Linked DNA regions of Homo sapiens: all the other regions are reported to be linked to region 1. The links are microRNA targets in miRTarBase. Many come from high-throughput screens and were not tested one by one. Region 1 holds a microRNA gene; each other region holds the end of a gene's coding sequence. Distances are between the middles of the regions.

Evidence for each region. The annotated mature microRNA hsa-miR-4695-5p reads CAGGAGGCAGUGGGCGAGCAGG and lies in region 1 at 2,584-2,605, opposite strand. An mRNA with a match to its seed (bases 2 to 7 or 8) in the 3' UTR can be bound and repressed. Matches are read on the target gene's strand: a 7mer-m8 pairs with bases 2 to 8, a 7mer-A1 pairs with bases 2 to 7 and ends in A, and an 8mer does both.
Region 2: miRTarBase lists STUM as a target of hsa-miR-4695-5p. Seed matches in the 3' UTR shown: 7mer-m8 at 3,822-3,828, 7mer-A1 at 780-786 and 7mer-m8 at 96-102.
Region 3: miRTarBase lists ZCCHC4 as a target of hsa-miR-4695-5p. Seed matches in the 3' UTR shown: 7mer-m8 at 1,438-1,444.
Region 4: miRTarBase lists SLX4IP as a target of hsa-miR-4695-5p. Seed matches in the 3' UTR shown: 7mer-m8 at 3,112-3,118 and 7mer-m8 at 3,144-3,150.
Region 5: miRTarBase lists ENTPD5 as a target of hsa-miR-4695-5p. Seed matches in the 3' UTR shown: 7mer-m8 at 3,416-3,422.
Region 6: the mRNA of TIAL1 is a reported target of hsa-miR-4695-5p. The part of its 3' UTR that is shown has no 7-base or 8-base seed match.

The regions. Positions count from the first base shown.
Region 1 is chr1:18,880,667-18,885,739 of GRCh38, forward strand. MIR4695 (microRNA 4695) reads right to left here and starts at 2,609; the gene lies at 2,536-2,609. It overlaps ALDH4A1 (aldehyde dehydrogenase 4 family member A1), which reads right to left. Exons shown (of 15, transcript NM_003748.4): 5 at 4,807-4,962; 6 at 2,613-2,762; 7 at 2,458-2,532; 8 at 1,034-1,221. RefSeq lists a silencer at 3,463-3,694.
Region 2 is chr1:226,601,420-226,606,492 of GRCh38, reverse strand. STUM (stum, mechanosensory transduction mediator homolog) reads right to left here. Exons shown (of 4, transcript NM_001003665.4): 4 at 1-4,487. The coding sequence ends at 4,453. Among named protein-coding and RNA genes, the nearest start is that of STUM, 55 kb to the right of the region's middle. RefSeq lists enhancers at 886-1,565, 1,566-2,245, 3,455-3,990, 3,991-4,527.
Region 3 is chr4:25,368,115-25,373,187 of GRCh38, forward strand. It overlaps ZCCHC4 (zinc finger CCHC-type containing 4), which reads left to right. Exons shown (of 13, transcript NM_024936.3): 13 at 915-2,269. The coding sequence ends at 1,050. Among named protein-coding and RNA genes, the nearest start is that of ANAPC4, 6.6 kb to the right of the region's middle.
Region 4 is chr20:10,622,990-10,628,062 of GRCh38, forward strand. SLX4IP (SLX4 interacting protein) reads left to right here. Exons shown (of 8, transcript NM_001009608.3): 8 at 1-5,041. The coding sequence ends at 390. Among named protein-coding and RNA genes, the nearest start is that of MIR6870, 24 kb to the right of the region's middle.
Region 5 is chr14:73,962,201-73,967,273 of GRCh38, forward strand. ENTPD5 (ectonucleoside triphosphate diphosphohydrolase 5 (inactive)) reads right to left here. Exons shown (of 16, transcript NM_001249.5): 16 at 1,030-4,814. The coding sequence ends at 4,728. COQ6 (coenzyme Q6, monooxygenase) reads left to right here. Exons shown (of 12, transcript NM_182476.3): 12 at 770-1,470. The coding sequence ends at 799. Among named protein-coding and RNA genes, the nearest start is that of COQ6, 14 kb to the left of the region's middle.
Region 6 is chr10:119,570,897-119,575,969 of GRCh38, reverse strand. TIAL1 (TIA1 cytotoxic granule associated RNA binding protein like 1) reads left to right here. Exons shown (of 12, transcript NM_003252.4): 12 at 179-2,505. The coding sequence ends at 305. Among named protein-coding and RNA genes, the nearest start is that of TIAL1, 24 kb to the left of the region's middle.

The DNA of each region.
Region 1 (5,073 bases):
CTTCCAGCCAGTGGTACCACCAGGAAATGCAAGATCAGAGCATCCAGGTCCAGGGGACCAAGACAGGCCAATATTTGGATTTATCTATGAAATTGTCCCAATTATACAAAGTTGGGCCATCACTGTTAGGAGTCAAAGAAAGTAGAGCCTCTTGCCAGATCCAATTTGGGGGCCATTATTTGCAATCTCTGCCTGACACAGAACTCTGACTCAGCCACTCTCCCTGCTTGAAGCCTTCCATGGCTCCCATCACCTTCAGGATAAAGGCCAGACACCTTTGCAGACTCCTAAGTATCTTATGGTCACTGAACCACTCCCTGCCGCCACCTCCAGCCTGAGAGCCGGGACCTTGTCCCTGGTGTGTGCTCACCACTGAGCCTTAGTGTGAGCTCCAAATTTCCTGCTCAGCCAGTGAGTGCATGGATGGTCGAGATCAGGTAGTGGCCTGCCTCCCCTACCTCAACTCAAACCATGCCCTGCCCTCACTCTCTTGCCCTGTCGCCCCCAAACTCCACACTCCAGCCACACAGGATCCTGCCATGCCCCAGAGCACAAGTTTTTGGCTTGGCAACATTGTATGTGCTATTCCCTCTCCCAACATATATATTCTTCTCCTGCCTCTTCCCCTCTGCCTGGCCAACTCCTCTGCTTAGATGTCACCTCCTCCAGGAAGGCTTCCTGACTCCTCCAGTTCATTCTGTGCTCCCCTGTGCCCTTTCCAGTAGCAGAGGTAGCACTGAAATCAATATTACCCACAGCTGTAGGGTGCACTTCCAGTCTGCGAAGCTCTTTCCTGTTCATTAACATGTTTAATCCTTGCAATGACTCTGCAAATTAAGGATAATCACTCCCTGTACAGGTGAAGAAATGGAAGCTCAGAGAGGTGAAGTGGCTCACTCATAGCCACACAGCAAGTAAGGGAGTAGAGTCCGTGCATGACCCCTGGGTTCACAGCCCCATCCCCAGGCAGACAGCAGGTGAGCAGGTGAACGTCCCCTAGCCACCACAGCCTACACCATCCCCAGGGACTTACGGCACACTGCCTGTGAAGTTGATGCCACAGAGGTGCTCTGAGCTGGTGACAGTGTCCCCAAATAGGGGCCCATCAGCTGGCACAAACTGGATGATGTTGGGGGGCAGGCCAGCCTCCCGAAGGATGCGGTAGACAGCATAGCTGGCCAGCATGGCAGTGTCACTGGGCTTCCATAGGACCACGTTGCCCTGCCCGGGAGGTGTTTCAGTGATGCATGAGGATGGCGCCACCAGCCCCCAACCCCCACCCCACCCTACCCTACAGCATGGTTGTCCCTCACCTGGAACCACCAGACTCTGTGCCAACCAGGACATCCCCTACCCGACCCCACTCCTCCAAGGCGTCTGGCCCTATCTCCAAAAGTCCCTGCCAAGGAGGCCACGGCACAGCCCAATCTGCCCCACGCTCTGGCCAAGGCTCCCTTTCCCCAGAAGCCTGCACCAACCGGTCCTGCCATCACCTAGGCAGGTCTGTTCTTACTGCTAGAGTCACTGAGTGCTCACCGGGCGCGGCGGGGCAAGTACACACGGGCTCTCTCAGCACATGTCCTGGGTCAGGCATGTGCAGCAGCCAGGCACGTGGGCGCCTGGCCATGCACCGTGTTTGTCTGTGCACAGATGCATGAGGACGTCCCCATCCATGTCCCTAGTACACACTCCGGCATCAGCATCCAGTGCCCCTGTCTGGGGCTCGGGGTTCCCGACAACTATGTGGACCTCTCCCACCCAGGCTGTCTGGGAGCTGGGCTGCACCTCCCCCACAGGCCTGGGACTTCATCCAGTAATAGCCAACCTCACTCCGATAATGGCAGAGGAGTGACTTGAATACCATCAACCCCGAGAGAGACTACATCCAAATCTTTCTCTGCTCCATCATTTATTTACTAGTCACTCAGTCTTGCCAAGTAAGTCACGGCTGTGTGTCTCAGTTTTGTCATCTGGCAAAGAGGCAGAGTCACAACTCCCTCTCGAAGCTGCTGAGAGGATGAAATGAGATCATCTCCATGCCGTGCTTGACAGCAGCAGGCACGTGGTGAGCACTGAAGGTCAGCGGTAATGATCATCAACAGAGCCACCAACACTCAGCCAGCTCCGGGCCAGCCCTGCCTGCTGCTGGATGTGTCTCATTTGAGCCTCACAACCCAGTCATGGAGGCTTTCCTATTATTTCCACTTTGCAGATGAGGAAACTGTGCCTCAGAGAAGTTCAGGGATTGCCAGGGTCTCCCAGGCAGAGAGGCACGACGCTGGGATTCAAACTGGGTCTCTGGTCCCAAAGCCTACCCACAGCCCCAAGCTGCCTCCACCTTCTGTGCCTCTCCCCATGACTAGGCTGAGACCCAAGGGGCTCAGGGTGGCCTCTGTCTGTCTGTTGGGACCAGGAGGACAACCAGCTGCCGCTGTCCCACCTGTGCCCACATCTCACCATCAGGGCCGGTGCCCCCGCCAGGTTGCCGCCGATTGCAGTGAAGTTAAAGGGCGAGATGGCCGCCACGAAGCCCTGGGGAAGGAGGCAGCGGTGAGATCAGGCCCATGGCATTGGGCTGCCCCGCCTGCTCGCCCACTGCCTCCTGCAGGTACCTCCAGACCCCGGTACACCGTGCTGTTGGTGCTCGGGGGCACGCTGATGGGCTGCTGCCCCTCCAGCTCCACCGCATACTTGGCATTGAACCGGAAGAAGTCGATGAGTTCCGCTGCAGCGTCAATCTCCGCTTGGATCACGGTCTTACCCTGCAAGGCAGAGGGCCGGGGGTCAGGAGCAGCCAACAGCCTCCTGTCCATCCTCTTCTCACATCTGACGCTGTGCCCAAAGCGAGCACTGAGCCGGGCCCCAGGAGGGACCAGGAAACATTTGGAGGGCTCACCAGGTCCCATCCCAGGGGCTGAGGGGGAAAGGATTCTCAAGCCCCTGAGCTAGCACCTCCTGTAGCCGGCCCTCTGGGCTGGACGGGGATCAGAAGAATTTTAGTGATCCTCTGTAGCAGGCCAGGTACTTGCCATGCACTGTCTTCATTTCATAGCAACTCTGAATGGTGGTGCATGGCAAAGGATCTATGGTCAAGCCTCAGACTAAATTCAGGATCAGAGCCTTCCAGACAGAAGGGCAGATTAGCATGAGCTGGAGATTGGTCACTGGAAAACCAGGAGAGAGACTCGGTGTGTGGGAGGTGGATGGCTCCTTCCCCAGGAATGATGTTCGGCCTTGCTGGTTAGTTTGGGCCAAAAACCAAGAGGCGAGTGACTGTGATTCCCTTAAACCGTCAATTCTTAATAACAGCAAATGTGAGCTGCAGGGAAAAGAACTGTGGACAGCCAAGAACGGGGCTTTTCCAGATTGACGTGGCCTCCTCTTGGCACCCAAGGTCACTGGCAGGTGCACGACCTATTAGAGACACACAGCCCATGAAGCTGAGCTAAGATGTGTACCTTGCTTCCTAGAAGTTCCTGAGTCTTAGGCCAAATACAGAGAAAGCCTAAACTGATCCTAGACTGTCTTCCCAGCAACGTGCGGCTCACCAGGAACACGCAGAGCTGACGCCCACCCCAGAGGGCTGCTGAGCCAATCTAAGAAGGCATTTAGCAGGCTGAGGGGCTGTCATACCAGCTCTGTGCAGCAGAGGGGGCGCTCACCATGGGGACCGAGGAGCAGGCAGTGGCAAATGCCTGATCCAGAAAGCAGCCTGGGTTCTGGCTCCTGCAATTTACCCTTCAGGAACCCAGGTTAGTTGGCAGCGTAGGGCTCAGGTCCTGGAGGTGGTGAAATAACCCTTTCTCCCTCGACTCCTGTCCCCCGCACACTCTGCCTGCTAGAGCCACTCCTCACTCAACTTGCATTTAGCAGGGTGAGGAGCTGTCATGCCAGCTCTGTGCAGAGAAAACCATTGATCAGGGGCTTGCTATGCCTCCTGAAAGGTATCATGCAAAGCCCAGAAAAAGACCGAGAATGTCAAGACATGTTTACTATGTCCAAAAAGCTTGTAAAGGGGCAGTACCTAGGAACTCAATACACTCCAGTGCAATCTGAGCTGTAACTGATGCAGGAACAACATGCTCTGGGGAAACAGAGGCAGGAATAGTCCTTTCGGCTGGAGAAGGCTCAGGAAGTCTCACGGAGGGGGTGACATCTGGGCTGGACCAGGAGGTAAGAGTTCACTGAGCACGGAAGAGACAGCAGGCATTCCAGGCAGGAGGACACGTGGGCAGAGGCAGAGAGGATGCCTGCCATGGCCGGGGAGTCCTGCTAAGTGCCAAATGGCTACACTATGGGCAGGACAGCTTGGCAGGGAAATGCAGAGCAGTGGGCGAGCTGGACAGAGGTGGGCAGAAGGGCCCTGGGTATGGGGCTCAGGTCTTGGGACTTGCCTCTCAGTGGTGGAGAGGTCTGGGTGGGTCATAAGCCAGGAGTAACATCCTGGAGGTGTTGGAAAGACCACTCTGAGGGCGGCGAGGGGCTGACCAAGCTAGGAGGCAGGGAGACAGTGCAGGCCACCACCAGTCCAGGCAAAGCATGACAAAGGCCTAGGAGCGAGGACAGAGGGATGGAGGAGAGGGGACATTTCCGAGGCAGGACACATGGGCTCTGCACAATCTGTCTCGCCTAATAATCTGTGATCATCCATCCCAGCTCCTAGGCCTTGTCCCTTGAGGACATCTCTGGGTCCCCAAAAGGGCTTAGGACCCAGAAGCGCTTCAGCTGATGTCTGCTGCCATGGGTAGGGCACACCTGACTCCCACCCCACCCCGCCCCACCCACCCGGGCCCACCAGCACCTCACCTGTCCCACCATGGTCTTGGCGAGGATCTCAGCCCTGCGCGGCCCACTCAGCATGTCTGCCGCCTTCAGGAAGATCTGGGCCCGGTCTGCAATAGGCTTCAGGTCCCACTCTTTCCGGGCAGCCAGGGCAGCCTCAATGGCTTTGTTGAGCAGGCTCTAAAGGGAGAGGGAGAGGTTGGGGACTGCCACCTGCAGCGGGAAAGGCCCTGGGGAGTGAGCGAGGGAGGAGAGACCTGGGAGGCCACTCTCTTCCATCCGGGGACAATG
Region 2 (5,073 bases), 210 Mb from region 1:
GCTCAGGGCTTTCTTTGCAAAATTCACTAACACCATAAGAAACAGCCAATGCAATTAAAGCCTAAGGTGGGCCTGGGAGCCTAGAAGGGACCCTGAGGAGGCCTGGCTCTCCACCCTCAAGCCTAGGGGTTGGATCTGGCAAAACTGAAGTGAATTCTCAGAATTGCAGGCATCTGGGCAGGGAAGGGGTTAGCTAAAGAACATGTTTCAGGGTTTTTGGCTTTGTGGGTGTTTTGTATTTTAAAGAGCCACGCTGGTGCAGAAAGACCAGGGCCCTATCAGCTTCCCCTCCTCAAGAACCTCGGGCCTTCGGAAGGCCTTTGACCCGGTCCTGGGGTTTCAGACCCACTTTGTGCTGCCTTACACTTGGTGTTGGGATCTGTGCCTGGCTTTTCTTTTTGAGAGCCGGACCCCTTTGCCCTCCAGGGGAAAAGTTAACCATGTGGCTTTTTTTCTTTCTGCAGTTCCTTTCTGTAGCATCCTCCTTACTGCTTCCGAGCCCTGGGCATCCTGCATGAGGCGGAGTTCATCTCACACCTCTGAGATGCCTGTGCCAGCATGGCTGGAGCCCCTGGCTGGCAGAGCGGGCAACTTGGTCCTGCACATTAGGATGGGGAAGCTCCTAATACCAGCTGTCTCTCTGCCGCCATCCCCCAACACCCTCAGGAAGGGGCACCTTTCTGGGCCTGCCTAAAGGAGGGAGCATGGGTGTGAGGGCTGCCCAGGCAGGTGGGAGTACGGAGCCTTGTGGGGCAGGGTGGAGGCGTCCAGGACCTTCCTAGGAGGTTTTGCCCAACTCCCCCTAAGTGATGACAGGTCTCAGGAGGGGGCCGCCCCCACATATGGGAGGGAGAAGCTTATTTTCCCAGCTTGGGGTGGGGGCGGCTGCTGAGGGGATGGAGAAGAGATGGTAATTTATGTTGCATGTTTAGTGACACAATCCAGACACAGGTGGGATTGTATCACTAAACATGTGACATAATCACCCTATTACTCCTGAGGGGTGAGGACCCCTCCACAGGACCTGCTCTGGGCTGCATGCGATTCTGCTCCTTCTTCTGGGAGTGCTGTAGTGAGTGTGTGGACGGCACAGGCTGTGGGGGCGGCCCAACCTGGCCACTTGCCTGTCCTGCCACTTAGGAGCTGAGTGTTTGGGGGCACATGACTTACTCTCTCGGAGCTTCTCCTCTGACATCTGAAACTCACAAAGGCATCTCCCCTCCCAGGAGCTAAAATGCCCTGCACTGTGCCTGGGTGAGGCTGCTCTTGGGGCTGGATGTGTGGGTCTGGGGCAGCTGAGGGTGGGAACCATGCTGCCTGCCCCTTCCTTACCATGGGAAGGTCAGCGGCGTGGCAGGCTGGGGTAGGCTCTGGCAGCAGAGCCATCAGACTCCTGCCGCTCCCATGGGGACCTGGCCTTCTCAGCCTGAGATCCTTGGTTCTGAAACTGACTCAGAGCTCAACATCCAAATCAACAGTCTCCGCCGTCCACAGGACACACCCAGGCCACCCACAGCTCACTCTGGCTCTAGGGTCCCACTCTGACCCAAGGGAATGACCACCCTGATCCCAGTGTCACAGTTTGGTACTGGGAGCATCTCATTGCCTCTGACTTTCTCTGCAAGCCTGTAATTCCTGCCCTAAACACCCACAGCCAGGGAATGTCCTATTGAATTCCGACCGACAAAAGGCCCCAACCTGGAATGTGCCCTGCAGCCTCTGAACCAACAGCCTTGTCTGCACTATGCAGGCAAAGCCCAGCTTTGTCACCAAAGGGCTGTGTGTCAACCATGCACTTGCCTGCACGAGAACCCTAATTTTCAGCTGGCTGGTGTTTGAGAAGTTAACTCTGGCCCTGGTCTGAGTGGCCAGCTGGAACTATTTGGAGTAAATCAGCCACTGTCCCTTATCTACTGAAGATGATCATGCTGAGACCACGGTCTAATTTAGAGGGGCGGGGGCGCTATTTTGAACCGGTCCCGCCCACATGGCAACCCTCACAGCCTCATTCAGGAGACAGGCAGGGGCCTCTTGGCTTCTCCCACACATCAGTTACCCGGAAAGGGGCCTCCTCCTGAGGCTGATGTTTTCCCAGGTTTAGAGACGCAGCCCTCGGGGGAGAGGAGGATCTGGGGGCGCAGTGGCCCTCCACACACACAAACACACAAACCCCTGTATTAAACCATCCCACACGGGACCCAGGGTGACACCTGCCACTCAAGAAAGTCCCACCTGCATCTGGATTGTGTCACTAAACATGCGACATAAATTGCTATCTCTTCTTCACCCCCTCAGCAGCCGCCCCCAGCCCAAGCGGGGAAAATAAGCTTCCGCCTCCCATTTGTGGGGGCGGCCCCCTCCTGAGACCTGTCATCACTCAGGGGGTGTCGGGCAAACTCTGGGGGCTGTGTGGGGTGAAGGGCTGTGGGCTGGTGGGCATGGGAGGGGGCGGCTTCCTGCAGCTGAAGCTATTTTATCTGAGTAGAGGGGCAGCTCCACTCTGACGCAGCTTCCTCGAGAGCAGCCAGCACCAGCCTGGAGGATGCCTGCTGCACACAGCAGAAGGTTCTAGCTTTTTAGAGAAAACCAAATCTGTTCCCACACCTTGAAGATACAGAGGCTTCCAAACAGGAGAGAAGAAGGCAAAGGCCTGGGTTGGGGTCTGTAAGAAGAGAGGACAGGACGCGACAAAGACACTGCCAGGTGTTCAAAAACGGCAGCCCAGCCCCAGGCAGCAATGGAAGACGGACAGTAGCTAAGGGATCCATGATAAGGGGTGGGCAGCAGGGCCCGCTTCTCAGGCAGGACTGTGATTAGAAAGCCCGGTGGATGGGGTAGGTGGGCTGAAACCCCCAGAACGGTGGCCACTACTTCCCAAGCACTTTCATCCTGCAAAATCCCTTCTCCTGCCCTCATGGAGTTCTGACAGTCTCTGATAGACAAACAAGCCCTTCAGAGAGGGACATGCCCAATGGCACTGTGTCAAGTGGAGTCAGAAGCTTGACTTTGGGCCAGCCCCATCTGTTAGCATTTCCTATGTTAGAATGAAAATGAAAGGAAAGGAAACAGACATGTAAATGTCCATCCTCTTAGTATCTAATTTCTCTTAATTTCAGATTGATACTTGATCCACAGTATCCTGGACAACTTCTGCTAGATTCTCCCCACCCCTAGCCCCCATTAGGGATCTAGCCCTGTCCCAATCACTTACAGAGGGGCTCCTTAAAGAGGCCCATGGTCTTTTGGCAACTGAAGGAGTCCTTGTGTAATGCCGACAATTTCACCCTCTAACACATCTGTTTGCAAGCAGGATTTTCAGATCAAGGTCCACAACCCCATACAATTGTTCTTGCAATTCTGAAACCCTAAAAGCTCTCAAATGGTAAGTTTTTCCCTAAGTTACTTAGTGGCAAAATTAGACTGAACTGAGGTGAGGCTATTTACAGTTTGTATAGCTCCCAGTTAATGGGACTAGTCACATGTTTCTCTGCAGAAATATTCACGTGCCTGATGGTAGGCGAGATGTTCCACACTCTGCCGGGAAGTTAGAAAGTGTACGATAAATGGATCGCATTGTCTTTCTCAAATCTAAAATTTCTCAATTCGGAGACACATCTGGCCCCAATGACTTCAGAAAAAGGAATGTGGGCCAGAAATGCTGTTAAGTATTGGGTGAAAGCCTGCTAGTCTGCCCACTCCTGCTTCAGTCTAATAACTTTGTGTATAAACATCTGGCAGTTTCACCCCAGGGAAGGAGCTACTCCTCTCCTTCCCAGGAAAACACAGGTCACGACACACCCAGCCCTCAGATTTCAGCTGCGAGGAGGCGGGGGGTGCGGTCAGGGAGGCAGGCCCAGGAGACGCCTGTGGGACTGGTCTTCTCCCCGAGGCCTCAGGCCAGCTGTGGGCACAGTGGGCCTTTCCACGCTAGGGTGGAGCCTGGCCATCCTCACCCACACCCTGGTGCTGCCCCCAGGAGACCACACAGTAAACACTCGGGGCACCAGATTTTGAGGCAGGTGGGGTCCCACAGGACGGGTCTACCACAGTCCTGTCCCCTTGGTGAGCCCCTGCTCACCCAGACAGGGCCCGGTGTGGCCCGGCCCAGCAGACGTGGCGTGCCTTTGCGGTGGGCAGTGGGTACAGCAAGGCCAGTTGGAGCCTGCCGGAGCATCCCAGCCTCTCTGTGGGCGTTCTCATCTCCACCCCACTCTCTGATGCTCTGGTGCCTGCGCCCACAGTGCTTTCCAGAGCAGGAGGGGCTGGCAGCCCTCACAACCTGCTGAGAAAAGCAGATGCGTTTTCAAAATAAATAATATTTTTAAAAATACCCCCTTTCCACCCCCAGTCCAGAAAATGGCAGAAAAGAACATGTAAAGGTCCTTGTGCCCAAAGCTGCCTGGTGCAGCCCTCACAGGGCCCCCCTGGATCTCCCCAGCGGCTCCCGTGGGCTCACAGCTGCTGTGGGATGCCCTGCTCCTTGTAGCCTGTGAGGAAGAAGCAAAGGAGAGATGGTTAGACACCTGCTTACTTCAGGATTTCTCCAGGAGGTGCCCCTAGCCCAGAATGCACACAGGAGGCATTGTTTATACTAAGGTGTAAATGACTGCTACCATCAGAGCACAACTTTTCCCAAGGGCTTTGACTTTCTAATGGGAAACAAAAGAATGAATCAGGAAATGTGGAGTACTGGGTCTACTGGGAATGTATGACGGGCGGGCATTTGGGGTGGGAGCTAAAAGGCTATCGACATGCTCCTGAACCCACATCTGGAAGCCGCTTACAGACTGGTCTGGTGTGCTTTCCCAGTGCAGAGCCTTGGGAGCAGGTGCCAGGCAGGCTTCCCCGAAGGTTGGGCATCTGGTATGGGTGGATAGAAGGAGGAAGAAAGGAGGAAGATGGCATACAGAGGGGAGCAGCCATCCCTGTGTGCGTCCAACCTGCTGGACGGTTACGGCAGGAAAGGGCGCCTGAAGGCTAAACCTTTAAAACATTGTTGATCATGAGTCCTTTGGGAAAAAGTGAGCTCTGTGGATAGTAAGGAATTGTTACTGCTTTATTTAGGTGTGAAAG
Region 3 (5,073 bases), not on the chromosome of region 1:
TTGTTTATGAAGCTCTTTTCCCAGGTTTATTCCTGACAAGATCAAGAATAAGCTTTTCCTATGGAGAAGCTTATGAGAGGTGAACCTAACAATTGATATTGCTGGGTAATCAGGGGAGGAGTCCTGGTTTGGCATTGTTGTAGCTCTGGCCCCTTCCTTGGTTCTCAATATGTTGAGTGTCATGGCATGATTCTGCTAGCTTGGAGAAGTGAATGGATGGGCCAGTCATTTTCTCAGCTGCAGGTCGCCTGTAACTTAGTGTGGAGAACACCAGAAACAAAGAATCTGTTTTGTCTGGTGTGGTTCAGTGTTTTCAGAGGGTGAGTTCCAGCTTGTTTATTTTGAAGCTAATCTTCAAGATAAGGACCACAAAATGCTGATAACCCTGCGTGGCACTTGTCAGGACTTTTAGATCCGCTGAGGAAAGGAAAATCTGTACGACTTAGGAAACAGGCCCTTTCAAGGCTTCTCGGTTTTTTCCATTGTGCTGTTTCATTTTTCTGTCTCTGCTGACTGCCCCATGTATCAGCTCCTCTCCAAAAAAAACGGAATTCAAGGATTTGGAGATTGAAGTGCTGAGTTGAGCAATACAGATGTACAAAAAACTTTTTTAAAAAGTCCAATCTCACTAGCTTTGCATTTACCTCTGTGGTGTGTTTGCCCCGGACAGCTTGTTCTAAATCCATAGTAACCATCTTTTAAAGAATTTTTTTTTCTCAAACATTTTGCTTGGTTAGGCCTCTGACTCTTCCCTTGTTGTTATGGTTAGGAGACTGAGGATTTATGCTTGCAATACAGTAGATTCTTTCCCTTCTTCTATTTTCTTATTTGGTTAGCTAGTTAATTAAACTTCAACATAATTACATAATTCACTGTGCTCATTCTGTGAAATAATTTAGCACCTTGTTTTCCAGAGCTGTCAGAAAGCAGAAGCAAAGAAAAAGTAATAAGATGAAAATGGAGACCACGAAAGGACAATCCATGAATCATACATCTGCTACAAGGAGAAAGAAAAGGAGGGAAAGAGCCCATCAATATCTTGGCTCTTAAATGTCCAGTGACTGGAGAATAAGAAAGATTTATGGTCCAACCTTTGATGCCATTTTCTGAAAGTGCCACACTGGACTTAAATTCAGCTGCTTCCAGAGGTGTGCACCTTTCTGAGCTAGATAACAGGCAGGTGGCATTTGCTGGTTTACAGTCCCTTATCTGCCTCTCTGGAGACATGGGGAGTTGTTCCATCTTCAGCCAGTTTACTAGTTCTTTCAGCATTCATTTTTCCTCACTTTAAGTCTCTCCCAGTCACATTGTTCTATTTTTATGTTTTCATTTTTTTTGAGATGGAGTCTTGCTCTGTCTCCCAGGCTAGAGTGCAATGGCACAACCTCAGCTCACTGCAACCTCTGCCTCCCGGGTTCAAGCAATTCTCCTGCCTTAGCCTCCTGAGTAGCTGGAATTATAGGCACATGCCACCACGACTGGCTAATTTTTGTATTTTTAGTAGAGACGGGGTTTCACCATGTTGGCCAGGCTGGTCTCGAACTCCTGGCCTCAAGTGATTTGCCTGCCTTGGCCTCCCAAAGTGCTGGGATTACAGGCATGAGCCACCTCACCCAGCTCCGGTCACATTATTCTAGCCTTTTTATCCAAAAAATGGGCAGACCATTCTTTTGCAGAAGATGTCAGAAGAAAATGAAAGTGAAAACCTATGCAGTTTGTTTACCGTGAACATAAAAGTATGTTAATTTAAATAGGAAAATATTTTATGTTAAATATGAAACAATAGTTTAAACCCCACTTGAAAAGTATAGCGTACAATTATTTTTAGACTGAATTTGAAGATGATGGAAAGGGTTTTTACAAAGGCACTGTTTAGATATACAGATTATAATTATAATTACATTATTATTAAATATTTATTCTTCAAGTACTTTTTGCAGTTGTCCTCTGACGGTCTAGAATCACTTAAATGCTTGTTGAATGAGTGAGATGTTTAGAACTACGACTTGCTCTGTCATTCCAGTGTCGTTTAACCTATGCAGTAAGATTCTGTCTTTGTAAAAGTAGTTCGTAGCAGAAGCCAGGATAGTTTGGTAATTAAACGCCCAAACTAAACTCCTCATTCCTACCCTTAATATTTCCTGGCTGTATGATCTTGGCCAGGTCACTCTCTAAAAGCCCCGGTTTCTTCATTATTATCATTATTATAATGGGGAGAATAACAGCTATACCTGAGGTTTGTTTTGTGATTAAATTAAATGAGACCCAAGTGCTTGGCTCTCAGTTCTCCTCTGTCATTGGTGTGTTAGGTTAACAATGAAGATTGTTACTGGGTCTAATGGTAATTACCTTTTGGCCTGATAACAAAGCATTGAAGGCAGTAATTTGAACTCCCAGAACAAACAGTTCATCTCCCCGTTTCTGTGCTAGTTATTGTCTCCTTAAGACTGAATTGTTTTGAATGACTTATATTTGCATAATGACTTTTCTCTTGTTTCCAAACAACTGCTGTAGAGCAGATTTGAAGGCATCTTTGTTTGGGGTTAGGCAGAGCCCTGTAAGTAAGGGTGGAGGAACTGCACTCTATCTGGTATTTAAATTCCAGGTAAGTTAGGACTGATGCCTGGTGTAGAATGCTCAAGTGTGGCCCAGATCAGTGTGGCAGTGGTGTACATCAGTTGATGTCAAAAGATGAGTTATACCCCTGGACTTCATAAGCATCAGAAAGCTCTTCTCCCTTTTGTTACATGGAGGGCTATGATAGGAGGGGCACATTTGGAGGTGACTGGGTGAGATATGAAGTTTGTAAAACCGTTGTGAGAGTTCCCCTCTCTGATTCAAGCAAGGATAGGGACATTGCCTGACTTTATGGTGTTCACCATTCCATGATAAAATCTATTGAAATCTCCTCTGAAACTAAGACACCTGAGGGACTATGACTACTGAAAAATTGAGTTCTGAAGGCCAACAGTTATTCTCATCACTATATTGCCTTAATGTTAAGATACCATCAATTATAAAATACATCATTGATTTTATCATAGCTTTTCAGGGGGAGAAGAGAAATAATACTTCATTAATTAATTTTTAGATCATCTGATTTCAGAAATACTGAAATGCAAAAAAAAAAAAAATCTTAGAATTGAGGAAATAGTTATAATCAGGAATAATGTACTTATTTATTTTGAGACAGAGTCTTGCTTTGTTGGACAGGCTGGAATGCAGTGGTGGGATCTCTGCTCACCGCAACCTCTGCCTCCTGGGTTCAAGTGATTCTTGTGCCTCAGCCTCCCTGGTAGCTGGGATTATGGGTGTGTGCCACCACACCCGGCTAATTTTTATATTTTTGTAGAGACTGGGTTTCGCCATGTTGGCCAGGCGAGTCTCAAACTCCTCATCTCAGGTGATCTGCCCGCCTCAGCTTCCCAAAGTGCTGGGATTACAGACGTGAGCCACCACACCCAGCCAGGAATAATGTACTTTAAAACTTTATTACTGTCTTAGAAAGTTAAAAATAGGAAATTTGGTGATTTTACACTTATATTCAATTAATACTAATTTTAAGGACTTAATCTCTATTCCTTTTTCAGAGAATAAACTAATTGGTAGCCTGTAAAAATGTGTCTCTGGGAGGTAGAATGTGAAGCGGGATGAGGTCATTTGTTCTTAATAGAAATCTGAACATCTTAACATTAAGATACCTTCTCAAAATAGCAATAGAAGAAAATCCCTAAAATTTGACAGATAACATTTTCTAAGCTTTTTAAAAGGACATTTTTAATAAATACAGCTAAATTTCATTCTTCTTATATTATGAAATTTAATGAGAAACAAAGTCTTTTTGTAGGCTGGATTTCATGTTTTTTCCTAATTAGTCCAGTACCTAGACTAGTTTATCACTCCATATGCCCCATTCTTTTCATCCGATACTGTTCTTTCTGCTTGGAATATGTCCCTCCATGTGGCCACTCCGTTCTCTTTTGGGAATCTTCCACGAGTCCCTGATACTGAAACCTTCTTTGGCCCCTTGGTGTTTGATACCACATTTAAGGCCTTTCACATATTATTCTGTGATTATTTTTACTGATTTTATTTCCCTCAAAGATTTAGGTCTCTTAATGTCAGCACCCATTTCATCTGCTCTTGTGTATCTTGTGCCTTTTTGGTGCTCAATAAAAATTTGATGTAAGCATGGAATTTTCTAGAGGCTTTGAAGTGGTAGGCATGCCTGAAATACGGACTGGACCCACTCTATTATGTTTCTTCTAGGGACTGAAAAGGGAAACAGATTTGTATTAGGAGGCACTTAGAGTCAATATGAGGACCACCCTAACTGAAGTTTTAAATGTGGGGATGTGCTGCGTGAAGATTAGTAGCCTTGTAGCAGGATGAGCCGTGGACAAAACCCCACAGACACCAAGATAGTGAAGGAAGTAGCTTTTAATCAGTTGGAAGCATCGACAGTCTAGTGTCTTAAAATCCGAGTTTGTTGAGTGCACAATTTCTGTCCCTTTTAAGGGCTCACAACACTAAAGATTTTACATGACAGGGCCGTGATCGATTGAGCAATCTAGGGGGTATGTGACAGGGGCTGCATGCACCGGTAATCAGAGTGAAACAACAGAACGAGAAGTTTCACAATGTCCTTCCATACAATGTCTGGAATCTACGGATAACATCGGTTGCTAGGTCATGGGTTGAATTTTAACTATCAGGCTAAGGTCAGGCAGGCCCAGGCCTGGTTTTGGGTCTGGTGCCTGGCACCCGGCTGCCTGCCTTTGGTTTTGCTTCCTTGTTTCTTAAAACAGGTACTGAGCATAAAACAATATAGAACAATACGGGGGGGGATCTCTTTCTCTCTTCTCTCAGCTTTATCTGCAAGACCCCTTCAAAGTAATCTGCAAAATACTAGGCATCTGGGAGAAGTTTGACTAATCTTGAAATATAAAATCACAACCTACAAAGGGTCCTGGTCAGCTGCCACTGCCTTCACAATGTCCCTGTTGGTCTCTCCACTGGAGTAGTACATCTGTTGCCAGAGAAATAAAAATGTCAGTTTGTGTGTTGTTTTTA
Region 4 (5,073 bases), not on the chromosome of region 1:
TCACCATGTCCAAAACAAAGTCCACGAGTGGCCAAAACCCAACAGAAACGCAGGAACTGCAGCTCTGCGGAAGACTTCGACCACCACGGGAGAGTTTCTCTTGGAAGTGATCGATTAGTCCCGAGAGAAATAATAGTGGAAAAAAGCAAAGCTGTCAGGGTTTTGCCAGCTTCAGAGTTGTCAGATCCAGGGTTACTTTTGAAACAAGATTTGGCAAAAACCACGTCTAAGGAAGAGTTGCATGTTTTGGAAAGTCTCTCCTCCAGACATCTTATGAAAAATAACCCAGGGCAGGCACAGCAAACCGGCTTAGCCACAAACACTGAAAGATTATCTACAATTCAGAACAGCCCAACCAAGAAAAGAAAGAAATACGAAAGAGGCCATTAACACCGAAGAGGTTTGTACCGTTGGAGTTGAGGACATAGTGGCCAAACCTGTGACAAGAGAGCTGCGAATATAGATGCCGGGATTTTAAAGGAATTAATTAGAATGACTAATTTAAATAGGAAGTGTGTTATCTGTGTTATGGCTATGGTTTGTTTTCAAAGCATTTCAAACCGGGAGGCTATATGCTTGTTCTAACAGCGTTGCTTCTTTATCATTGTATTTTATGACTGTCTTCAGAGAATTAGTAATGACAAAGAGCCATCCACCTTGTCAGGGAGGAGACTGTGCAAGGACTGCATGAAGAAACTGATCATGAGCCCCTTCTTGGCACATCACTGTGCAGACCACACAATGGACCGTGCAAAGACAGTGCTGCCGTGCTGCCTTTCAGCTCCAGGGGTACAATCCATCCCCCTGCTCCTCAGCCTGAGTAGGAGGGCAGTGAAAGAACAAGCTAGTGGTTCTTAGCGCGTGGTCCTGGGACCAGCTTCGTTGTCTGGAAATGTGCTAGAAATGTGGTTATTGGGCCCTGCCCCATGCTGAGTAACTGCCTTTGGGTGATTCTGAAACATGCTCGCGTTTGAGAACCACTGGACTAATAGAACACTCCCCAGTGCTTCCTGCAGCCTGGTTGCCATGGCCTCCAGCTCACCAGTTGGGGCCAGATGTGCACATGCATCCCCTCGGACTCCCTCAAACTCGTAAAACACTTGGGTTTGGTGTATGGGTCACTCTCTTCCGGGTTCTACAGTATGGCAGCCATGGCACCCATGAAGGTGTTACTTTCCCTTATAATTGTTGAAGTCGATGGGCGATTCTGCCCAACCTTAGGAGAAGACATCAGAGAGGCTCGTTGTTGCCTGTAGCTCAAGCATGTCCCAGTCCCTGCTCTTGCACCCACCTCCAGGATTTTGGTTTGGGACAGACTATAACCTAACAGGAACTCAGTGACCAGGTTCCAGTTTCCCAGTTGGAAGGCTTCGCAGGCAGTTCAAATTTCAAGATGGGAGCCTTCCCTTTACAATGTCACCCACTGTCTCCAGTGGGCTTGATGAAATGTCACATAGTGAATTGTAGCAATGACTTATTTTGGATGGACACCCGCTAAAAGTTTCCAATAACCGAATTTCACTCTAAAAGAGGAAAGAAACAATATTCAAGGTCCATTCATTCAATACATCTTTTTTTTTTTTCTGTTCAACATGGGGTGGTCCTTTGAAATGGCACCTCCCCTAAGTAATAAGGAAAACCAAGTATATTCCCTAAAGTGTTGAAGTTAGCAGAAAAATCACCCAGAAAAGCCCAAAACAATGACAAGAGTACAGAAACAGGCATAGTGTAGGTTCATGCTTGAGATGGATTAGTGGTTTATTCCATCCCGTTCTATCCTTTCCCGTATCTCCTGTCCCCACTTGTTAAGACCAGTAAGACTCATGAAGCAGCAGCTATATTTCATGGCACCATTTTGGGTCATGAAATTCCATCTTGGTCACCAAGCCTGACTGTGGTGGTAGATACTGTTACTTTAATGTTCCAAACCCTGCCTAGAAACCTGTTCCTGTCCCATGATCCCAGCCTCACCACCCCCACTTGAAACAGCCCTTCCTACTGGTATCCTGTCCTCTTCCCTCTTGGCTTTTTTCCTGCTCCCAGCGGAACCCAGTCAGGGGATTCTATAGGAGAAGAGGGAGCCCAACAGAATACTAACTTCAGTGGAGCTGACTCTGCTTATACAATAGGGGTGGGCTGCACAGAGTGGAAACCGAGTACCTGGTAGAATGTGCATTTCCATGGCCCACTGTAGGCGCCTCTCTTAGAGCAAACAGTATTTTAGGTGTGCTCTTTATTGAACACAGGACCACAGTGTGTCACTGAATCTTCTTAAACAGAAGCAATTAGAACGATTTAGATATAGGGAGGGCACAAGTAATAAGTAACCCAGGGGATAGACCAAGAAGCAGCTCTCTGGAAGAGTCTGGAATTAAAAAGACGGCTGTACTAGAACAGTAGCCACTGCCTGCTCCAGAACTAGGGGGGAGATATTTGAGCTGGAGCCACCAGAGAACATTTCTATTGAGAAGTTTTTATTTGTTTGTTCTGTTGGTTTTTTGTTATTTCTGTTTTCTTCTAATCTTTCTCTGAAGTATCACTCTGGTATTGAGAAATTTTTATTTCATTAGCTAACCTGGGCTTGGTGGTTAAGGCTAGTACTTGTACTTAGAATGATTCTCTGTCAGGAAAAGTCTTGGCTTTAGAGTTTGTTATAGTTGGGGATATAACAATTACTGTGATCGAAGAGAAAAAATAGCACCTTTGGTTGTAGATAGATGTAGTTTTCCTCACAGCCCTCACGTCCCTTCATGTAAAAGGGATTTTAACAGGATTTACAGAGGGAATGGCTCTCAGTTCCCACACTGTGACATGTGTTTGAGGAATTTTGCCTTTAAGCATTTTTCTTGCACATGGCTGAAACACCCCTGGCTCTCTTGTTATTTGAGTGGTTGCATGATTCTTTGGATATTTGGAAGTACAAAGGGGTAAATGGATGCCAGGGGTTTTTTGTTGTTGTTGCTTATTAGGTAGGATATGAAGAGTTCTCACTGTTGGGAATGGTATGTGTTTTGACATTCTTTTTTTTTTTTTTTTTTTTTTTGAGACAGAGTCTCGCTCTGTCGCCCAGGCTGGAGTGCAGTGGGGCGATCTTGGCTCACTGCAAGCTCCGCCTCCTGGGTTCACGTCATTCTCCTGTCTCAGCCTCCTGAGTAGCTGGGACTACAGACGCTCGCCACCACGCCCGGCTAATTTTTTGTATTTTTTTTTTTTTTTTTTTTTTTTTAGCAGAAACGGGTTTTCACCGTGTTGGCCAGGGTGGTCTCGATCTCCTGACTCGTGATCCGCCCGCCTCGGCCTCCCAAAGTGCTGGGATTACAGGTGAGAGCCACCGCACCCGGCCTGTTTTGACATTCTTAATGATCTTAATAATTTGGCATCTGAAAGTCTGAAACAGTGTCAGTATTGTTAGTCAAAAAGAACAAGTTCTTCAACCACTTGCGTAGTACCCCAAATTATATTCAAGTCCCTGTGACTCCAATGCTTGGAGAAGTCATTGATATGATTTGATTAATGTTATAACTTTGAATTTCCTAACTTTCTCAGCGGCATAGATTCTAAGCCACTTCCATGTGCTTTCAGATGGCATCTTAATAGATTGGTGTTGAGGTTATTTTAATGTCCATAAACAAGAAAGGTCTGGGAACAATCTGTATGATTTTTCTTTCACATTTTCTTATCTTTGCCACTGGAGGTTAACTGTCGTCCAGATATGCATATGAATTGTGAAATGCAAAGAAGCAAACATTTGGGGGTAGGGGAGTAAGTGCTGTAGTTCTTTTGTTCACTTATTTTAATACTATAGAAGTGTATTTCATTTTATAAAAAGCAAGAATCATAAAAACCCTCTGTATTTTGATTTATGAAGAATATAGCTTCTCTCTGAAGTATCTCAAGATATATCTTGGGGACCACAATGGGATCACAGTGTAATTGTTTGCTGTTGGTGTCATGTTTGGATTTTAGCATGGTTTGTTATGCATGTCAGTGGCCTCTGATTTCAGAAAGAGCTTGGCGAGGGCAGAACACATAAGGGAAGGAAACCTCTGCTCAAGAGAGTGGCCTGGGATCACAGTGTCGTCATTCCCAATTTCCTTGAATTCCTTCTTGGCAGACCTTACTGTAATATTACACAAAACTGTAATGAGTGGCCCTCCTTTGGAGGTAACAGATGCCTTTCCTAAGAACTCAAAGTTCTCTTTTCAGCGTGCTGTGACTTGAATATGGAAATCATTTTAATTTCTTCTTTTCTCTTATGGGGAAATTTCCATGCTTGGTTTGTCAAGACAAGAGAATTCATTCCTTATTATTGAAACATTAATGAACTGAAACACGTTGAAGCAAGTAAAAAATCAAAATTAGGTTGGTTTATCTTAAATAGTTAAAAGCCTTCCTTAGTACAAAATAAATTAAGCATTGTAAAACGAAGTTAATTCAGGTAATTACTCAGTACAGAAATCTAACCGTATATATCATTGGTATTGCAATTTAAGGGTATAATTAAATTCTCAGAAATCTGCAGGACTCACTCTAATTTGCTTTCTATATTTATTTACAAGACAGGGAACAAATATGTGTCAATGTGCAGCTTAACAGAGGGGACTTGAATGGATAAAATTATCTTTAATTATCTAGAGCTACCCAGTACTGGGCTTGAATTTAATCATAGTCAAATGTTTCCTCTGGCAGCATAATATTACCATACACCATATTACCTTATAATTGCCATTACAGTTCCTTATCAAAAATGTTAATTCTTTGCTTGAGCAAAAATCAATAAAACCTTATGTTTGACCCTAAAGTATTTGATCAGGGAACAGAAGGTGTGAATTGGACAGATCCCCCGAATAACTTTCTTCAATCAAGTTGAAAAACCAAACAGCTATGTAAGTCCCCAGGAGAGCTCTTTTTCCCTTATCTTCTCATTTGTTTTGTTATAAACTGTTTAAATAGTTCAAATGGTTGTGCATGCCTAGGGGATGAAACCTATGTAATAGAAATGTACTGTTTTATGAATAAGGAGTAAAATTGTTTTAAAAAATTAATGTGTATCACTTCTGTTCTTCAAAAACA
Region 5 (5,073 bases), not on the chromosome of region 1:
CTCCCAAAGTGCTGGGATTACAGGCGTGAGCCACTGCGGCTGGCCCACAGCTCTTAATTTCTTTGAATTAATTTTCTTGGCTGTAAAATTATTATCTTTATGTGTTTGCCTTCCCAAGGGTTACAAGCAGAAGAGTACTTGCTAGGCTTTTAGGTGTTACGGCCCACATCTAAGCAATAACTATGTATAAAAAGGGCTTAAAAATAGTGAATAGGGAGTGTGGTGGCACATGCCTGTAGTCCTAGCTATTCAGGAGACTGAGGCAAGAGGATAATTTAAGCCTAGGAGTTTGAGGCTGCAGTGGGCTATGATCACATCATTGTTACTCAGACTGGGTGACAGAGTTAAGACCAGTCTCTTGAAAAAAAAAAATGAATAGGGATTTCTAATGATGAAGATGTTTAAGCTCCTTTTGCTGCTTGACTAGTTTCATCCCTGAGAACTTCCATTTAAAGATATGTTTTTTCTGATGGGTGCAGTGGCTCACACCTGTAATCCCAGCACTTTATAGGAGGCTGGGGAGGGAGGATTGCTTGAGCCTAGGAGTTTGAGGCTGCAGTGAGCTATGATCACACCACTGCACTCCAGCCCAGTCAACAGAGTGAGACCCTGTCTCTAAAACGTGTGTATATGTATGTATATTTTTCTTTTTTTAGCTGAAATAAAACAAGGACACTTGGGAAGAATACCTACGTGATTATTATCTACAATAATTATTTTCTTCACCTTACTGTGTTAAGAGTTTCATTCACTTTTATTTTTTCTCCAGGAACAGATTATGGCCTTTGCAAGCAAATGAGTACTCCTCTCCTAAAGAAAGATTACGTTGATGAAAAAGAACATCCTGCCCAGGACCCATCATACATATTTTCAAGATCTTATTTAATTTAATAAACTTACTTTACATTAAAATTCTCTTTTTCTTCTTTGCTTAATGGGCCTGTGGCACCCAAATAATGAATGATAATTTGCTGTGAGGAGCGTATATTAGCCAGACCAAAGGAAAAAACTTCGAAGGAAGACTTACAATTTGGTTGAAAAGAGCTTTTTATTACTAAAAAACCCACAAGGTGCTGTCTCACTCATTTCCAGTTAATCATTTCTAAAGAGAAAATTTACATTTTGTTTTTGTTTTAATGTTGGTCATAAATTTATACAGTTGTTTTTTGATAGAGGTAAGAATTAGACTCGATGCATTTTTGTTAGAATTGCTGTTTAAATGTTAACATCAGAATGCAAATTAAATATAAATTGCTTTAACCTTTGTTACAGGTATACTGGACTTTCTGAAAGGAAAACCAGGTCTCATTAATGCTAGTTATTACTTTATCACAGCACCAGATTTCCATTTTATTTATGGTTCCTCTCTGGGACACCACTGTCGGTTTAATAAAACAATAAATAATTCATTGCACAGATCCGAAGACCTCAGGAACCAGATCACAAGGGAAACCGATTAGCAGCAGAATTTGTTCATGTTTGGTGGCAGACTGGTGGCCAACTGGAGGGAGGGGAGTTTTACTGTGGGTTTTTGAAGAGGTCTCGTCACAAGACCAGAGATGCCTCTTGAAGAGATTTTTAGGTTGTAGGTTTGCTTACTCTAAAGAACATCTTGCCCAGAAGTCTGATTTGAGATGAAATGAAGAGAAACAGTCTGCTTTTGAACCAAGTAAGGTATTCTTGGGAATAATTTTTAGAGCCATGAGAAATCTATTCTTACAGGGGTGCTTTTCAGGCAAATGCAGAAAATTTAAAAGAGTCTAGAACAAAAAAGTGACAATGTCACAACCTTGCTGGAATCTCAGGAAAAAGAATTAAAGATGGCAGCTGCTGTGAAAAGCTGTGTGACTCCTGGCGGAGACTGCAGGGACAAGGTCATCTTTCACAAAAAATGGAAAGGTGGCCTAGATGAGGAGGACACAGACTCTCCAGAAGTTATGCAAACAAAATCAGGCAAGATGAAGAATTTTAAGGCACACCTCCATTGGCCCACAGAGAGTGTTCTTCATATGACAATGATGTTAAACACCATCTGTCACGTACCAGGCCATGTCCTAAGTATTTTAAATATGTTAACACATCTACAAAGAGGAAACTATTAGAATCTGTAGGACCTCTTAAGCCCAAAGGGTCTACTGCAGGCAGGATGGGCGTTACAGAAAAAAATAAAAACTCTCATTCCAAATTGCTCCTAAGATGGACAAATTGGTTACTTCTCCAGAAGGTCTAATCAAGGTTAACAAAATAGGTAAGTTCGTGGAGTTAGAATGCATCTTCCCTGGAGTTCAGAGGTATTTGGGATGACCAAAGGAGTCTGCTGGACAGTATGTGTGTTTTACAAAATGGCCCCCACAGTGATTAAAGACCAGAGACTTATATCTCTGCATTTGTCAAGCTGGAACAGTCTTTAGTGAACACAGCTTACCTCTTTTAAAACTGCTGGTTTCTACTGAAGGAAACATGGATGACATTTAGTGTTCTGTGACTGGTCTGGCACCCTACTTTTGTTGACAAAGATGGGAAGGGGTCTAAAAGTCATGTCACTTATAAAAGAACTTGGGAGGAACTTTTTTCAAAAGATCCAAAGATTTTGGAAGGAGAGATTAGAGCAGAACTAAGACCACTTAGAAGATAGGTAGATTTCAGCTCAATATAAGGAATTTTTTTTAATATCAGTGCAGTTCCAAATGGAATAAGCTGTTTGAACATGGCTTAGCAGAAGCTGAATGACAACCTGTTAGAAATTCTAGGGAATTCTGCACTGAGTACAACATTGGATTATTTCTTTGGGCTGTTTCCAACTCAAGATTCTGTTATTTCATTATAAGCATTTTGAGGAAGGCAGTTGGTATAAAGGTGACCTTAGTAATAAAAGTCAGTGTGAAGTCTAAAGAAATTCCACAATGAATTTAAAGACAAGAATTTTAGGGACAAGGATACAGAAATTTGCCTAGTAACTTGCACACAGCAGATGGTAAATATTTATTGACTCAATGGAGTAATGTTAAAAATAAGGTTTCCCATGGACTGTGTGAGGGCCAGGCATACTTAACATCCTTTGTGAGAGAGAGGATGGAAACGGAGTCTACTGTGAAAGCCACAAGTTTTGGGGAAATACACTCCTGCAAAGAAGCTGGAGGTTAACAACCAAGGCAAAGGGGCCAGACCACAGGGAGATCTTCCAGGTCCAAGAGCACTGCAGGGCAGATGAGAAGCAGGGATGATTATGTTGAAAGTGCAAGATAAGGCCAGGCGCGGTGTCTCATGCCTGTAATCCCAGCACTTTGGGAAGCGGGTGGATCAATTGAGATCAGGAGTTGGAAACCAGCCTGGCCAACATGGTGAAACCCCATCTCTACTACAAATACAAAAATTAGCCAGGAATGGTGGTGGGCACCTGTAATCCCAGCTCTTCAGGAGGCTGAGAACAAGAATCGCTTGAACCTGGGGGCGGAGGTTGCAGTGAGCTGAGATTGCGCCACTCCACTCTAGCCTGAGCAACAGAGCAAGACTCCATCTCAAAAAAAAGTGCAAGATAATGAATTTGGGGTAAATAATTCACAGTCAAGAGCTCTGAGCACTTGGATTCAAAAAGAGAGCATGAGGGACATTAAATATGGTTCTCCCTGGAAATGTTGGTCCACTGTACTGATGTGGGCTGAGAGAGCCAACCAAATCCAAGTGGGGTTTTGTCAGGAACGGTATTGGAAACTCTGAACTAGATAAATAATTCAAAGGATATTAGCTAAAGTGATCAGGGACCAGGACAGGAAGGTACTGTTACAAACGGAGAGAATAAAAGGGCAAACTGAAATAATAGATCCTGGAATAGCACAGACACTGACCTCTGACCACAGACCAAAAGTTAGGGCCTAGTTGTATTTCTTAGAAATACAAAGAAAACAAGTTTAGAATCATAGAAAACACTGTTAACACATTAGCCTGGGAGGTGGTACTGGCACTGAATATACACATACCCATAAAGTCGGATATGTTCATTAATCCCAGAGTTGACTGATAAAATGCTGATTAAAGCAAAGGTAGGCTATATGAGGCAGCCACACCCTCCCAAAACATGTCCCCAGAGACCGGGTGGCCTTCTTTCTTAAGGCTGTAATTTATGCACAGTTAGGAGTTACTCTCTCATCCTATTAATATTTAGGATGGCTCTCAGCTGGCTGATTGGAGCTAACACAGAATAGGATCATACAGATTCTGACATGGTCCCATTTTGCGTTGTTGAATTATACATGGAAAGCAAAACCAGGTTTTTTTTTTTCTCTCTTTTTCAGGGGAGGTGGGTGCAGATAAGGGTGGGCAGGGCACTGTATAGGGAGGAAAAAAATACTGATATTGATGGGTCTTGGGATTGCAATAAGTCAGTTTACCATTTAAGAGGAAAATTTAAATATTCAGTGGAATGAGGCACTCAAAGGGTTGAAATGCGATTTTTCTTTGGTTTCCAGGGACCTGTCCCTGGGCTCTCACTCCAAGGTTAAGTTCCAAAACTATACTTTTTGGCTCACAGGGCTCTCTGTGATGCTCTGGTGCCAGCTGTGTACTCTTGAGTGGTTAGGCAGCAGTTCACATTAGATGTGTAAAATTAATTAAACCTAAATCTCTAGGCTCAAGTCCAGGATGTCCCCAGACTAGTTCAGAAACTAAGTGCTCTCTCCTCCCCTTAAAAAGGTGTTGGCAAATGCAGGTCTCCAAGGAAGTACGTGGCCTCAATGGGAGATGCCCAGAGACTGCAACAGGTGAAAGGTGGCCCCCAAGGCCCAGCCCGTCTCTATGTTGTTCACTTTCTTTGTGAGCTGTTGAGAAGAAAAAAAGTCTTCACCTTTTCATCCAGTTTCCAACTCTAGCAAGCACAGCTCTTGGGCAGAAAATATTGGCAAAGAATATCCACATGGGCAAACCAAGGCAAAACGGACAGAAGCCAGTCTTTGCAGGCTTCCCACTACTCTGTAACAATTTCCTTCCGGCCATGGCCCATTGGCCATTGCCCCTACACCCACCATTCTCATATCTGAACTGAATGCTTCTGGCCCAGGTTGTGGCCCATCAGGCCTT
Region 6 (5,073 bases), not on the chromosome of region 1:
ATACTGGAATATGTATTCTACACATATATCATTTATTTCTTTGATCTTTCTATTTGTTGTAGGTGTGTTGATTTCTGGTTTTCTATTCTGTGATTAGGCTCTGCTTGATTTTTGTGTAAATACATATGTGATTTTTTTTTTCTTGTGTTTGCTGAAGATTTTTTCTTTTTCTTCCAAGTCAATCACCTTCTGCTGCTTGGATGGGTGGATTTGGTGCTCAGCCTCCCCAAGGACAAGCTCCTCCCCCTGTAATACCTCCTCCTAACCAAGCCGGATATGGTATGGCAAGTTACCAAACACAGTGAGCCGGGACTCTAAAAAAAAATTGTAATTCATGATAGGCTTCGATTTCCTGTGACACTCTGAAGACATGAAAGTAGACATCGGAAAATGAAAATATTTATTTTAAAAATTGAAATGTTTGGAACCTTTAGCACAGATTTGCTTTGGTGAAGGACACGTGTCTTCTAGTTCTGCCTTTTTAAGTTTTTGTTCATGATGGATATGAACATGATTTTTCTTTATGTACAAAAACTAAAATAAAGTCAATAAAGACAATTCTGACTACAAATTTTGATATAATAGGAAAAATGGCTAATACATTTTGATTCTTAGATACTATTCCATTTTTATCTTGCTGTTCAGTATTTTAACTCACTGTGTTTTTAAAAGAGCAAAAAAGGGAGGATCGTGAAAACCTGGGAATCACATATAAGTTCATCCTGAATCCTGATACTCCCCTCCCCTTCCCTGAGGTGGACCACATTTGAAGTCAGCAGAGAAAAAGTGTGATATTCAGAAGAAATGCGTGATTTTGGAGTCGCTTTGGAGGAAATATTTTCTTTCTCTATGCCTAAAGAAACTGAAGCCAGACTGAAGTTTTGCACCCTAAAAAAGGAACAGCATTGTTTGAGTTACTTGAGCAAATGTTGGTGGTCCACGTTAAGACATATTTTTAAAACTTCCAAAAGTGTCGATTATTAAAATTGTAGTATTTTACATTTCATTTTGGGGGGAAATCCAAGTATGGTGTTTGTATTGAAGTCAGACAGTCATACTTGTGCTTTTACATGAAGTTTAAATGATACATATTGTAAATATTCAATAACTACAGTGTTTAAAAAGCATGCTTCAACATAGAAGTAGCAGCAATGTAATTATTTGAAGTAACACTTAACACACTCCGCTGCATTGAATGCAGTGGATTGATCAGAATGTTAAGACTGACATTTCCAAGGTTGGCTACTATGTAAAATTAAAATTACACAAATTGTGCAGAAAAAGCCTTAATTTTAATTTCATACAATCTTTGATGCATTAGTATGTTCTAAAATGTCATTGGGAATTAGTTTTTTGTTTTTGTTTTTTTTTTTTTTTTTTTTTGCTTTACATTACTTGGTATGTAAATACCTTGATTAAAACCTTGTAAACCAATTTCAAGGTTACTATAAGTTGTATAGTACAAGTGTTTTTTAAAAATCTTGGGGTGTTTTTAAAAATTAAGATATATTTTGCCCAAGAATTTTTTTAACAAGATTGCTAAAAACATCTTATTTAGACACTTCAATGTACCAATTTATAATTGGATATTCAGTTTAAATAGTACACAGAGTTGTGGCTTTTATTTTCAATTAATTTTTTTCCTTGTGGGCAGTGTGCATGGTATAATAAGCCTGAGCAGAGGCTTAAGTTGTATGTGTGCAGAGTTTGTAAAGGAATCAATTGGAAGATGCAGAAGACCGAGGTTTGCTTTCAAGGTATTTTTCAGGCTGTGTGGGTAAAATTTGCCTCAAATTTCTATCAAACAGGAATGTAAAATAGATAAAATCCTATGTATTTGAATTGTCAGAGCTAGGGAGTGCAAATGTTTTGGCAATGTATTCAAAATGCTGGCCTGGGCACCAAAGAGAAAATAGCCTTTTACAGTTACATAGTAAGATGCGATTAGTACCCACAAATTACTGTTTTCTAAACATTTGAAGTTTTACGATTAGCTTTAAAATAATGATTTTATAAATTGGTGGTCACAATAATTTTGGTATTACTTTCCTCCTTTTCCCACTTAGCAATATAGCCAAATGTATTCAACATAAAAATTCATAGGGTCTGAAATTCATAGCTGGGCCAAATTTTTTATGGCACCTTAGTTTTACCATAATGGTCATCTATTACACTCTTCTGTTATAAAATATACCCTTATTTCTTTTGTTTATAGTATCTTTGAGGAATGTTTTTGGAAAAGTTAATTTATATTTTATAGGGAGAACACTCAATAAATTATGTTAACTGTGCCCCCGAGTTAAAAATTTTATGAGTATATGTGAAACTTGAACAACTGAAGACTTTTTTTAATTGATAAAAATGCTTAGTATGCCTGTTTTGGTCTGCCAGTAAATTAAGTAGCTTATTGAGATAACTAACAGCTAAATATAGCTGTAGTGTTTCCTGACTGTATATTCTATGATTTAATAAAATTATCCAGACTAGTTATATTGCCACAGTAAACATGTGACTGAAGTGTCCTTCATCTTAATCTGAAAGAGGGCAAAATTTCATGATCAGTTAATGGAAGTTATTTCATATTAAGTGGTTTTTTTTTTTTTTTTTTTTTAGATGGAGTCTTGCTCTGTCGCCAGGCTGGAGTACATGTAGTGATGAGAACTTGGCTCACCGCAACCTCTGCTTCCCAGATTCAAGCGATTCTCCTGCCTCAGCCTCCTGAGTAGCTGGGATTACAGTCACGTGCCACCATGCCCAGCTAATTTTTTTGTGTTTTTAGTAGAGATGGGGGTTTCACCATGTTGGCCAGGATGGTCTCGATCTCCTCACCTCGTGATCCGCCCGCCTCAGTCTCCCAAAGTGCTGGGACTACAAGCGTGAGCCACGGTGTCTGGCTTTTTTTTTTTTTTTTTTTTGAGACGGAGTCTTGCCCTGTCGCCAGGCTGGAGTGCAGTGGTGCAATCTCGGCTCACCGCAACCTCCGCCTCCTGGGTTCAAGCTATTCTCCTGCCTCAGCCTCCCGAGTAGCTGGACTACAGATGCATGCCACCATGTCTAGTAAATTTTTGTATTTTTAGTAGAGACAGGGTTTCACCATGTTGGCCAGGATGGTCTCAATCTCCTGACCTCGTGATCCACCCACCTCGGCCTCCCAAGGTGCTGGGATTACAGGCGTGAGCCACTGCACCTGGCCATTAAGTGGTTTTTAAAATACAAAGCTACTTATCCAAATGAAATGTACCATTTAAAAACTACAACTGGGCCGGGCGCAGTGGCTCAGCCTGACCAACATGATGAAACCCTGTCTCCACTAAAAATACAAAATTAAGCGTGGTGGCCCGTGCCTGTAGTCTCAACTACTCAGGAGGCTGAGGCAGGAGAATCTCTTGAACCCAGGAGGCGGAGGTTGCCCTGAGCCAAGATTGTGCTATTGCACTCCACCCTGGGAAATAGAGCAAGACTCCGTCTCAAAAAAAAAAAAAGTGCAACTGTTGCCGGGCATGGTGGTTCACACCTGTAATCCCAGCACTTTGGGAAGCTGAGGCGGGTAGTGGATCACCTAAGGTCAGGAGTTTGAGACCAGCCCAGCCAACATGGTGAAACCCCATCTCTACTAAAAATAACAAAAAAATTAGCTGGGCGTGCTGGTGGGCGCTGGTAGTCCCAGTGACTTGGGAGGCTGAGGCAGGAGAATTGAACCTGGGAGGTGGAGGTTGCAGTGAGCTGAAAATGCGCCACTGCACTCCAGCCTGGGCGACAGAGCGAGACTCCATCTCAAAAAATAAATGAATTAATTAAAAGTATGGCTGTTGAGCTAACAGATGATTTTATAACATGACCCAATGCTATCTTGATCCAACTTAAGCCTAAGAATCGTTGCTCCCCACCCCGTTCATCAAAAACATCAGCAGAGACTTTTTGGGCATGCAAGGAAATGTTTTTTATTTCATAATTATTTTGAGATTTATTTTGGTGATGTGTTTCTGACTGACTGCCATATTCTTTGTTCTCATAATTTCTCTACTAGTATTTTCACTCCCAACCCCCGTGCCATTCCCACTTGATTTTTATGTCTGCTGGCAGTGAGAGGCTAAAATGGCCAACTTAAGCCAAAGCTGTAAACAACAGTTGAAGTAAGTCTTTCAATAAAGACTAGACTATATGATAAGTGGCTTTTTCTTATTGTCGTTTATTACATAATTATTCTACCAGGTTGCCATGAAATAAGCAACTGGGTTTTAAGTTTTCAGTAGTTATGTGGAGTATGTATGTAGTCAGGACCTATTTCCATGTTCTGTGTAAGTGTTAACAAGTCCATTAGCTTTGCTGAATTTAATCTCTGGATATGAAGGAGTAGAAATTTGCATCCTTCTAAAAATGCATGCTCTGTTTAATATTAATATATTAAAATTTATTAATTTGGAGTCCTCAGATACGGGAACTAATTTTACTGTCTAGGTTGCTCTTTGGTAGTATCTATGAGTAAAGATGATACTTGACAAAAATAATTTAATAAATGTTTTAGATACTTTACTAGTATGTCCAAATTAAATTTTCCCTATTAAAAGCATTTGAGCTTCTACTTAATACATTATAAACATTGACTTTGCAATTTTATTACGTATTGGAAAGATGCAAAACCTATTTCCTTTAGACTTTTACTAGTTTTTGTAAGCCTTCACTCTTAAGTGGTCCAAATGAGGGTTTTGCTTAAATGTGTATTCTACTATGTTTAGTAATTAAATATTCTCGTAATTGGCCAGGCACAGTGGCTCACACCTGTAATCCCAGCACTTTGGGAGGCTGGGGTGGGCAGATCACTTGAGGCCGGGAGTTCGATACCAGCCTGGCCAACATGGCAAAACCCCATCTCTACTAAAAATACACAAATTAGCCAGATGTGGTGGCGTGTGTCTGTGATCCCAGTTACTCAGGAGGCTAAGGCAGGAGAATCACTTGAAGCTGGGAGGTGGAGTTTGCAGTGTGCTGAGATTGTGTCACTACAATCCAGCCTGGGCAGCAGAGCAAGACTCTGTCTGAAAAATTAAAATATTCTAGTAATTATGTTTAAAT